Regions from separate parts of the Homo sapiens genome. Here region 2 is linked to region 1. The links come from fine-mapping of genetic effects on gene expression. A gene starts in region 1. The other region holds a variant in brackets. All regions are shown on one strand. Distances are between the middles of the regions.

Region 1 (5,376 bases):
TTTTGTTGGTTCATAAAATGCTCAAATGCTCAAACCATATGTTTAGCTACAATTCCCAATGGCTATATCCTTCTTTATATGAGTAAAAGAGGAGGTTTTCAGCATCAGGTGGAAAAATAAGTATGGGTATTGGGGAAAATAGTCTAAATTTAACTCTGAGTCAGTTCCAAGACAGTGGAGGTGATACCAGGTTCATGGCCTGGCATTTCCCAGCCTGCGAATTCTGCTTCAAGTCTGCAAGTCTGCCCAGTAGGTACAAGACAAATCATACCCAAGGACATTTGTACAGAAACATGAGCCTTGCTAGATCCCTCCCTTGTGCAGGGTAGCTTCTATGAAACATATAGACCAAGCAGACTTCCACATCAGTGAATACATTTGGCCATCTGAAAATACAGAGACTTAACACATATGGAGACCTGTGGCTTCCTCGGGCCAGCCTCAGTTTGAAAGCAAGGGTGAGATCTTTGTCAGACACTCACGGGACCTGTGCTGCCCATAAAGGAAGGGGCCCTTCTCTCAGGACAGCACAAGGGAAAACACCCACAGCCGGAAAAGAAGGTGTGTCTCAGCATGACGGAGGCTGTGTGCAAATTATTCCTTGTGCCAATATCAGGAGTGTGGATCTGACAAACAAAAGGCCATGTCATTGGCTTAGTGTCTCTGTGGAGTCTGTAATGGTCCTTTTACTTACTTGAGTCCTTTCTAAGATGGATTTTGTTCATTTTCCACTAAGATTGCAGAAGCTGCACGTGGCGTGGCAGTTTATGAATTGGGTCCCCTGGCAAGGCTCTGAAAGACAGCTGGAGTGGGGGTGGGCTGTGTGTGTGAAGCCGCTGCACAGAGCTGGAGTCGGCTGTCCACACAATCACGTCTATGTGAGAGCCGGCAGCCTGCAAACTGCTTCCCTGCAAGGGGAGACACATGCCAGGGGAGGGCCAGAGAATTTTGTTAATTCTGTTTATCTTAGAGACTGTTTTTTTGTCTGCTGGGGGAAATAAAAAACAAATACATAACTTCCTTGCTTGTGTGCAGTCTGATTTTTTTCTCTCTCTCATGCCCTCATTTTTATTTCTCCGAAGTATCTCTCCCCTTCAGTTTGGGGCATCAGTTTATGGCATTTTTCCGTACATGTGTATATAGTATCTATGCACAAAGTCAGAGATATAAATGTCTGTTTTAGACTCTTTTGGCTTTAGTGTTCTGTGGAGGTCCATGAGATATCAGAGATCTCATTTTCTTTCTGTTAACATAATTAGCAGAGCTCTCTCTGTGCTCAGAGTGCATAGCTGAGTCCCGCATAACCAGCAATAACAGTGCATTCTTAGCAGCCTCCCTGGATAGTTTGCTAAATTCTTTCTGAGAGCCTCTCGCTGCCTTTACAAAGGTTATAGCTGAAAAACAAACCAGAAACTGGGAATCCAACTCTGTGAGCAGAGAGAGGGCTGCACATTCTATTATCGCACGGATAGAGGCTCAGGTTCATGCAGTCGCGTTTGGAGTCCTGGCAATTTCAGATGAAGGCCGTCCTTAGGAAAATCAGCTATCCCAAGCCCAGGCAGTCTGGGTTAGCCGAGGTTTTTGTTTGTTTTGTGGAGTTTTTGCTGGTTGGTCTTTTGTAGATGCTGCAAATCACAAATGGGGAACCTGAACGACACAAGCTTTTTCTTCTCCGTATCATTTTACCTGGCCAAAAAGGCAAAAGAAGGGGAAGGTGGCATTGCTAAGTCACAGGGAAGGATATGACCTAAACATCCCCCCTTCCCCAAGTAATCCGGGAGCACCACTCCCCTCTGAGGACCCCACAGGTACTTTCACAGTCCAACACACTGAGAAACAAGCCCACAGGGTGCCAGGATGACATGACCACAGAGAAAAGGGACAGAAGGAGTTTGGGACACATGCACGGACACCTGTTGCTTTTGCAGACTTGAACTTAGAAAATATGAGCCTCATTAGAATTTCTCTTTCTAAAATAAACGACCACTTTTAATATCGTCAAATATCATGTACTGCTATAGTTCTCTGTCCTCCGCACTGAGAATCCAAAACAGGTCCTTGGGATAACTTTTGGGAAACAATACCGCCACGAAAACAAAAGTCTTCTCAGCCAAGAACACAGATTTTTTTTATCTACCTTTGATGTCCCAAAGGACTAGAGAATCCAGAGCATTTAAATAAGACTCCAATGCCAGGAGCTCACTGTTCCCTGCTGGATGCCAGCCCTCCCCTCCCTGCCCAGAAGAGGACATGGTACTCACCAGTCATTAGGGTATAATAATTGGGATACGAGAGACTAGGGAAGTCTGGAGTCAAGTAATCCACTTTTACTCCCCTGCTCACAATCTCTTTGAAACCAGGCAATGACTCCAGCGCCTCATCACTGATGTAGTCTGAGCGAAAACCATCCAGCAGAAACACCAGCAGCTTCCGGCGGGCAGAGGCTGGCTGGGCCAGGCCCAGGGCAAGGGCCAGCAGGAGGGTCCCAAGCTTCACTGCCATGCTGCCAGGAGCCTGCCAGAGCCCGGCTGGCACAGCTGTCGCCTTGCAAAGACTGAGGATGGAGAATCTGTAGCTATTCTCTCTTCCAGGGGCTGGACCTTGAGCCGCTGGCCTTCCTGAGTCAAGTTCACTTGCAGAATTTAAAGGAACAGCACCCCCTTTTCCACACATCTATGCTCACCCTTTACTAGAAAGTCCAGAGACCGACTCCTTCAGATAAACTGGGTTCCAAACAACCCAGAATTAACACCAGGGGAGAGAGTTCAAACTTATTATTTTTGGTGAACGTTCCAGAAATACAAGCACCCACAGAGGTGGAATTTTAGAAGATGACAAAGTCAACACTAACTTTGCAGTTGAGCTAACCAAAGGGAGGAACCAAGGAAAAGGGCAAGATTTTAATTTGCTGTTATCCCACATCATGGCCTCATTTAAACTCTTTTTCACTTAGAATTTAGTAACGCAAACCTCTGGACTCAGTGCATAAACAGGAAACAATACGTTTCGGTGGGCCCATTTGTAAACTTCCCAGCTGTGTCTCTGTAGACACAGCACTTAAAAAAGTTATTTGTCTATGTCTTGGCCACTTATGTTTTTATATGCAGTGTTATTATTTGTTATTATTTTATTTTTCAAATGTGATTTAGCTGCTGGTGCCCATAGGAGGAGGTGGTTCGTAGAAGAGCCCTAGAGCCAATGAGAAGCTTCCAGAGTTGGACAATGGGAAATCATTACTGGCAGAATGGTCTGAAGCAGCATTGCCCCAGGAGGATGGAAATGAAATAGAGAGCTGGAGATTGAGAGCTTGAGATGGAAAAGCAGAGCTAGAAATTACCATGCAGGCTTTGGGACCGAGAAGACTAGGCGGAGTGGAAAATAGGAGGAGGTTAGTGACAGGGAGGCAGATGTGAGCTGGGGAGCAGACAGAGTTAGCACAAAGTACCCAGAGTCCAGGGGTTCCCTAGAGTGGCTCCGTCATGCTACATAAAATTAAACAACACAATTCATGTGAAGGCTTATAAAACATGGCTGAGTGCAGTGGCCCACTTTGGGAGGCCAAGGTGGAAGGATTGCTTGAGGCCAGGAGCTTGAGACCAGCCTGGGCAACACAGCAAGACCCCATCTCTATAAAAAATTAAAAAATTAGCTGGGCCTGGCGGCACGTGCCTGGTCCCAGCTACACAGGAGGCTGAGGTGGGAGGATTGTGTGAGCACAGGTGGTCATATCTGCAGTAAGCTGTGATTGTATCACTGCACTCCAGGCTGGGCAACAGAGTGAGGCCCTGCCTCAAAAAAAAAAAGACATAAAACATGCATGGTCCATAGCAAGTGTTGAACAAATGTTAGATGTTATTCGCATTATAACATTGCTTGTCTCCTGAGGAAACTTGCAGGCTCTGGGCAAACTTTCCAGGGAAGGAAGATAGACACCAGCCACACCAGCCACTCTCAGTCAACCCCAAAATCCCTCTTCCACCTCTGCCCTCTGCTTGTGTCTTTTCTCCTTCTCTTTTTCTGTTGTATTTGAGTCAAGCCCAAACACAGGATCACCATGTCACTTTTTAAATTATGCTGCAAAAGAGAAACACATTGGCCAAATTACCACTCCCCTCTCAGGGGACTTGGCCAAGGATCAGAATTCTTTTTTCCAATAAGAGGTAATGCTTTTTATAATTAAATTTAAATTTTTTTCTTATTAAAAAATAAGGAAAAGGGGAGTTTATCCTAAAAGGTTGTTACTTTGAAAACAATGTTATTCTTTTTTCTTTGAGCTGTGTGGTATTGTTGCTATAAACAGAGAAAAAGAAAAGAGAGAAGAAAGAGGAAAGGAAGGAAGAAAGAAAGAAAAAGGAAAGAAAGAAAAGTAAACGAAGGAAGGGAGAAAGAGAAAGAAAGGGAAGGGAAGAAAAGGGAAGAAGGAAAGAGAACAGAAGGGAAGAGAAGAAAGGAAGAAAAGGGAGGAAGGGAAGGAAAGGGGAGGGGAAGGAAGGGGAGGAAAGGGAAGGGAGGGAAAGGAAGGGAAGGGAAAGGGAAAGGGGAAGGGAAGGAGGAAAAAAAGAATAGAAGGGAAGAAGGGAAAGGAAGAGAAAAAGGGAAGAAAAGCGAAGAAGGGAAGGGAAGGGAAGGGGAGGGGAAGGGAAGGGAGGGAAAGGAAGGGAAGGGAAAGGGTAAGGGGAAGGGGAAGGGAAGGAGGAAAAAAGAATAGAAGGGAAGAAGGGAAAGGAAGAGAAGAAGGGAAGAAAAGCGAAGAAGGGAAGGGAAGGGAAGGGAAGGGGAGGGGAAGGGAAGGGAGGGAAAGAAGGGAAAGGAAAGGGAAAGGGGAAGGGGAAGGGAAGGAAAAAAAAGAATAGAAGGGAAGAAGGGAAGGGAAGAGAAGAAGGGAAGAAAAGCGAAGAAGAGAAGGGAAGGAAAGGGGCGGGGAAGGGAGGGGAGGGGAGGGAAGGGAAGGGAAGGGAAAGGAAGGGAAGAAGGGAAGAAGAGAAGGAAAGGGAAGGTGAGGGGAATGGAAGGGAGGGGAGGGAAGGGAAGGGAAAGGAAAAAGGGAAGAAGGGAAGAAAAGGGAAGAAGGGAAGAGAAGAGATGGGAAGAAGGGAAAGGGAGGGATGGGAAGAAGGGAAAGGGAGGGATGGGAAGAAGGGAAAGGGAGGGAAGGGAAGAAGAGAAGAGAAGGGAAGGGAAAGGGAGGAGAGGGAAGGGAAGGGAAGGAGAAGGGAGGGGAGGGGAGGGGAAAAGGCAGATGCAGCCTGATGGGTTGATGGGCCTCCTAGACACTGAACATCACATGTGCTAGAAGGAGAACTTCTTCCCCTGGTGAGGGCCCATGGAGGTAGGAGGCCCAGATAGCTGTGCTCTGTGAGTTCCTGAGAGGCTCAG
Region 2 (5,376 bases), 28 kb before region 1:
ATTTCAGGAGGGTAGAAACTTTGCCCTGTTTTGTTCATTTGTATCTCCAGGGCCTAGAAGAGTATCTCTGGCTCCATAGAAGGTGAGAGATACTTCTTGAATAAATGAATGAATAGACACCTATTATTTACACATAGCAAGCTCTGAAAATATTTTGTTGAATGAAGAATGAATGAATGAAGAATAAACCAGACTGTCCAGGAGCTGGGGATACAGCGCAGAACAAGACCAAGTCCTGCTCTTGGAGCATACATTCTTTAATTAAAATAAGGTTTATGACTGGATGCTAGAGTCACGATAGATGATGTATGGAAGCACAGGCCTCTTGGAGTCAGCTTCTGTGTGTTACCTTTATGGTAGCATGCTCTTACAGAAGACCATTCCAGGACAGAGTATAACATGGCCCATGGGTTGAACAAACCCAGGGGTGTTTTGTTTCCATCCTTATGTTTATGTTTCAATTCTAGAAGTCCTGTCAGTTTCCGTTGTGCCTGAAGCCTTTCCCAGTCGTTTCTCTTTATGAAAAACATCAACGGAGGTTGGCGTCTGTGGGGTATATTCCAAGACCTACAATGTATGTTGTTAACCCAATTCCTTCAACCAAAGAAAATATTGTCCTAGGTTTTTGTTCCAAACAAAGAAGGTAATTTCTTCACCAACTGCCATTTTCACCCCCATCCCCCCAAATTGACGATCTGGGGTCCCACGCTCTGCTTGAGTCAAGGGTTGGCACACGACTCAAAGCTTCTGTCCTGAAGCTGTGTCACAGTCTTGCCACGCTGTGTTTGCATATGGCTGCTAGGAATCAGCTCCATGAGACCACACACAGGCATCTCACGTGAGAGGGAAAGCTGGTTCAGAAGCCACGTGGGGAGACGATGCCACATTGCTCCAGAGGGCTACAGATTTATGAACAGTTTAGCTGGAGAGAGAAGCAAGTCTTCTGAGAAAAGATTCAGGAAAATGTATTGCCAATTAAATGTGGGAGGCTTCATTCAAGATAAAGATGTCTCACGCTCACACATGAGAGACTGATTGTTAATCCCCTGGGCCTACTGGTAGGACCAGCTTTGCATTTTATGTGACGGAGGAGGTACTGATTTCCATGAAGAAGTCAAACCCTGGCCCTATTAACACTTAGACTTGAACCTGAATAGATCTAGAAAGATTCCTAGGAAGCAAAATGACAGATAAGGTGATTAAGCAAGTGGATGCATTTGCCATTCTTTGAAAATGTAATTTCCTGGACTTTCCACCTGTGACCCACCAGGGTGACCATTCAAGTCTGTCAAGTGCTTTGGGGCTGCAGCTTGGAGCCGAGTGGCTCTGCACACTAAGAGAGCTGGGCCGTGCTGGGAAAGTGGATTGGAGTTGATATAATAAATAGTTCCTCATGTATATGCCAGGGGATTTCTCCTCTCAGCCGCCTTCCTTTCCTGGCCATGGAAGGAAAGGAAGTCCTGTCAGTTTCCTGAGTCAGGGGTGCTGTGTTGAAACCAGAGGGGATGGTGTCCATTAGATAGTTCCCAAAAAGAATTAGACTTTGTCCCTCAGGGAAACTGGTAGTGAAAGATGTGATTTTCAACAGAAATTCCTGGCCTAGATTTCTAACCCCACAAATCCTACCTCAAATCAGGCCACTTTCCCTCTTTTTAAATCATAACTTTGAGTCTCATCTAGGGAAAGGGGTATAGAAAGACTAAATTCACGCTTTAAAAAGTAAAGGTAAGCATGGACAGGCTTCCGGTGCTAAGCAATGCTGAAGCTCCGGTTTGAGTCCGCAGCACTGGCAGTGAACGGGGCTCATGACCAATGACAGTCCTGCCTTTCCACGGACAAAGTCAGGAAGCCTCATGAGGAAACAGACCAGAGGAGGCCAGAAGGGCAGAAGAAAGAGAGGACCCTGCAGGAATGTTCAAATAAACTCCGTGGAGTCCTTAATGTCCTCATTTTTAAAGAAAAGCAACTTGAACCCAAGGAGACTTTGTCTGAAGCCACAAGGTTTAGATCTCACCACAGCCCGGAGTAGAACCCGTGTCTCCCACTTCTGGTCCATCCTGACTCTCCTCCCATGAATATCTCCAAGAGATGGAGAGGAGCGAGCCAGCCAGAGCCCAGGATCAGCATGTGAGCATGAAAAGGAAGGGAACTCGTGTGAGGAGACAAGTGGTTGGATTTGGCAAAGAACTGAGAAAATATAAAATATGGCTGAGTAAAATACAAGGTAATCTCATTTTGGCAGAAGCATTGCCTTTTTATTTCATGTTATTAAAAATCATATTCTCTTGCTGACCATGAAACCACCTGGAAGCAGGGGTGCTAAAATAGAAAACCTACCACACACCATGTCGCCTCAGGGAACCGCCGTCTCTGAGAAATTTTCCAGACTCTCTGTTATAAGTGGCTTGAACTCTCAAACCTAATATCTCTTGGGTAATACAAAAGAAGTTGTTTAAACCACCAGAGTACTGGATTACTCACCGATCTGGAATTTAGTGAAAAGGTAAACCATAGAGTTTAAGTATGGTGCCTTCTTGCCCCTCACAATATTTGACAGAGTTTGCAAAATACTTAATTCCTTCCATTTCTGCTTTGTGCTTCTAGAACTTATCCTGGTTTGTGTGTGGACTGTCACTGGGGAGAAGAGAGCAGAGAGAATCGGGGAGATATGT[C/T]TGAGCTGATCTCCCTCATTTTCATTTGGATGTTTCATCTGCTCTAAGACTAAACATATCACCCTTGATAGATTGGCAGCAGGAATTTCTTTTCTGTTTGGAGTGGAAATGAGATGGGGAAGAGAACAGCTAAAAAGGAAAGCTGGCTAACTATTTAGGATACAGCAGCTTCAAGAAACTTTAAAACATATACAAGGAGGCATTTATAGAGTGCTTACTAAGTGTCAGGGAGCATGAGACACATTGAGTGGGATGTAGGGTGAGTCAGACCCTGCCCTCATTGGGACCACCATGCCCTCCCAGGTCCCCATAACCAAGTATAATCAGAAGCAACTTGTCCAGAGCTGCATCTTGGTGGTCTGGGGCAGTATCCCAGATGTGACTTATCAAAAGAGGCCTGTTTAAGCCATTTTTCACAACTGTGCAGCCTTGACCATTTGAGATAAGTAGCTAAGTGTCTGATGTTGAATCCTCTCTTTTATGCTCAACCCCAGAAGCGCTTATTGTTCACATTGTCCATTGAGACACACAAAGGAGGGTTTAAAAAATAGTTACCCAGGAGGTTGCTTAGTCTGAAGGAAGCCTGGAAAGGCAGTGGCTCATGTACTATGGGTGTCTATGTGTGCAGGCGTATGCCACGTGCATATGCAGCTACAAGATCACTGTCTAAGGGAGAGACACGTAGATGCCTATGCAGGATGGCGGCCCTGAGAGCTGCTTCCTTAGAAGTCAGAAGGAAGAGGCAGCATGATGTTGTGGGGAGCACAGGATTTTGTACTCATAGTTCTTCCATTTATGGGCCCTGTAATCTTGAACAAGTAATTTAATATCTCAGAGCCTTGGTTTCCTCATTTGTAAAATGGGAACAATTGTGACTACTTTATAGGGTTTTATGAGGATTAATTGGAATAGTGTTTGAACGTACCTAGCACTGAGCATAGCACAAAATACGGTAGACATTTGGGAAATGTACGTTCTGCTCCCTGCTTGACTGAATCCGGCTACTTGTAATAAAGGAAGACAATAGGAGTGCTACAGAGATAGGCCATCCATTGTCTTCTCAGATCCTGACTCTGCCAACTGGAGGCAGTGTGTTGAGAACGCAGAGCGATGGAGGGGGAAGCAGAAGCCCTCTGTTCTGGTCCTGATCCACTCACTTCCTGACTAGTTGACCTCAGGCAAGGCACTTAACTTCTCTAGATGAAAGTTCTCTCATCTGTAAAATGCCTGTACATAACTCCTAACGTGACTGTAAAGATCAATTGAAGGCATCAAGATTAGAAAGGAAGAAGTAACTGCCTTTATCTGCAGAAAATATGATCTTGTATATTCTTGTATGCAGAAAATCCTCAGGAATACACAAAAAACTTTTAACTAATAAACAAATTCAGTAAGGTAGGAAGATAATTACAGTTTATATACTGCAAAAATAAAATTCTGAAGATAATTCCATTCACATTAACGTCAAAAAAAATAAAACATTTAGCAATATTTAGCAAAAGAAGTACCAAATGTACGCTGAAAGCTACAAAGCATTGCTGAAGGAAACTGCAACAACCCAAATACATGGAAAGACAGCCCATATTCATGGATCAGAAGACTTAGTATTGTTAAGATGGCAATACTACCTAAGTTGGACTACAGATTCAACACAATCCTTATCCAAATTCCAGCTGGCTTTGGCAAAAGTTGACATGTTCTTCCCAAATTTAATATGAAAGTACAAGTGACTTGGAATAGCCAAAACAATCTTAAAAAGAACAAAATTAAAGGATTTATGTATACTGATTTTGAAACTTTCTACAAAGCGTGGCAATCATGATAGTCTGATCTCACCATAAGGATACACCTAAACATCAAGAGATTATTGGAATAAAATTGAGAGCCCAAGAATAATCTCTAATATTTATGATCAATTGATTTTTGACAAAGCTGTCAGAAATAGTCAATGGAAAAGGAATAGTCTTTTTCACAAATAGTGCGGGGACAACTACCTCACACTGTATATAAACATTAATTCAAAAGGGGTCACAAACTTAAATGTAAGAGCTAGAAATTTTCTTTGTCTTATAAGAAAACATAGGAGTAAATCATCACGATGTTGGGTTAGGCAATTATTTTGTAGTTATGACACAAAAAGTACAAGTCGTAAAAGGAAAAGTTGATAAATAGGACTTCATCAACAATAAATGCTTTTGTACAGCAAGACATCCCATGAAGAAAGTGAAAAGACAACTCACAGCCTGGAAGAAAAATACATGCCAATCATATATCCCATAAGGAATTTATATCTAGCATATAGAAAGAACTCCTACAACTAAAAATAAAATGACAATCTAATTTTTAAAATGAGTAAAGGGATTTGTATAAACATTTCTCCAAAGAAATTATCACACAGTCCACAAGCACATGAAAAGAAAATGCTCAACATCATTAGTTTTTAGGGAAATGCAAATAAAACAACCATGAAATGCCACTTCATAACCCTGGAATGGCTTTGATAAAAAAGACAATAATGGCTCTTTTATCAGAGTGGCTCTAATTTTAAAAAGATAATAACAAGTGTTGGTGAGGTTGTGGAGATGTCAGAACCTCACACATTGCTGGTGAAAATGTAAAATGGTGCAGCCATTTTGAAAAATGGTTTGGCAATTTCTCAAAATGTTAAACACAGAATTATCCTATGATGCAACAATTTCACTCT

Direction of the effects. Positions count from the first base shown, and alleles are read on the strand shown. Sizes are in standard deviations (SD) of each study's normalised expression.
For the expression in tibial nerve of the gene that starts at base 2,556 in region 1, allele C in region 2 goes with a lower level than allele T (small effect, 0.21 SD a copy in GTEx).

Evidence for each region. PIP is the estimated chance that this variant, and not a neighbour inherited with it, causes the effect.
Region 2: its variant is the best candidate, but not a certain one, in a credible set for the expression of ENPP6 in tibial nerve (GTEx, PIP 0.77).

The regions. Positions count from the first base shown.
Region 1 is chr4:184,215,318-184,220,693 of GRCh38, forward strand. It overlaps ENPP6 (ectonucleotide pyrophosphatase/phosphodiesterase 6), which reads right to left and starts at 2,556. Exons shown (of 8, transcript NM_153343.4): 1 at 2,262-2,556. The coding sequence starts at 2,502.
Region 2 is chr4:184,187,755-184,193,130 of GRCh38, forward strand. The region is part of intron 1 of ENPP6 (ectonucleotide pyrophosphatase/phosphodiesterase 6); the gene reads right to left. Among named protein-coding and RNA genes, the nearest start is that of ENPP6, 27 kb to the right of the region's middle. The variant C/T (reference allele first, on the strand shown) is at 2,673.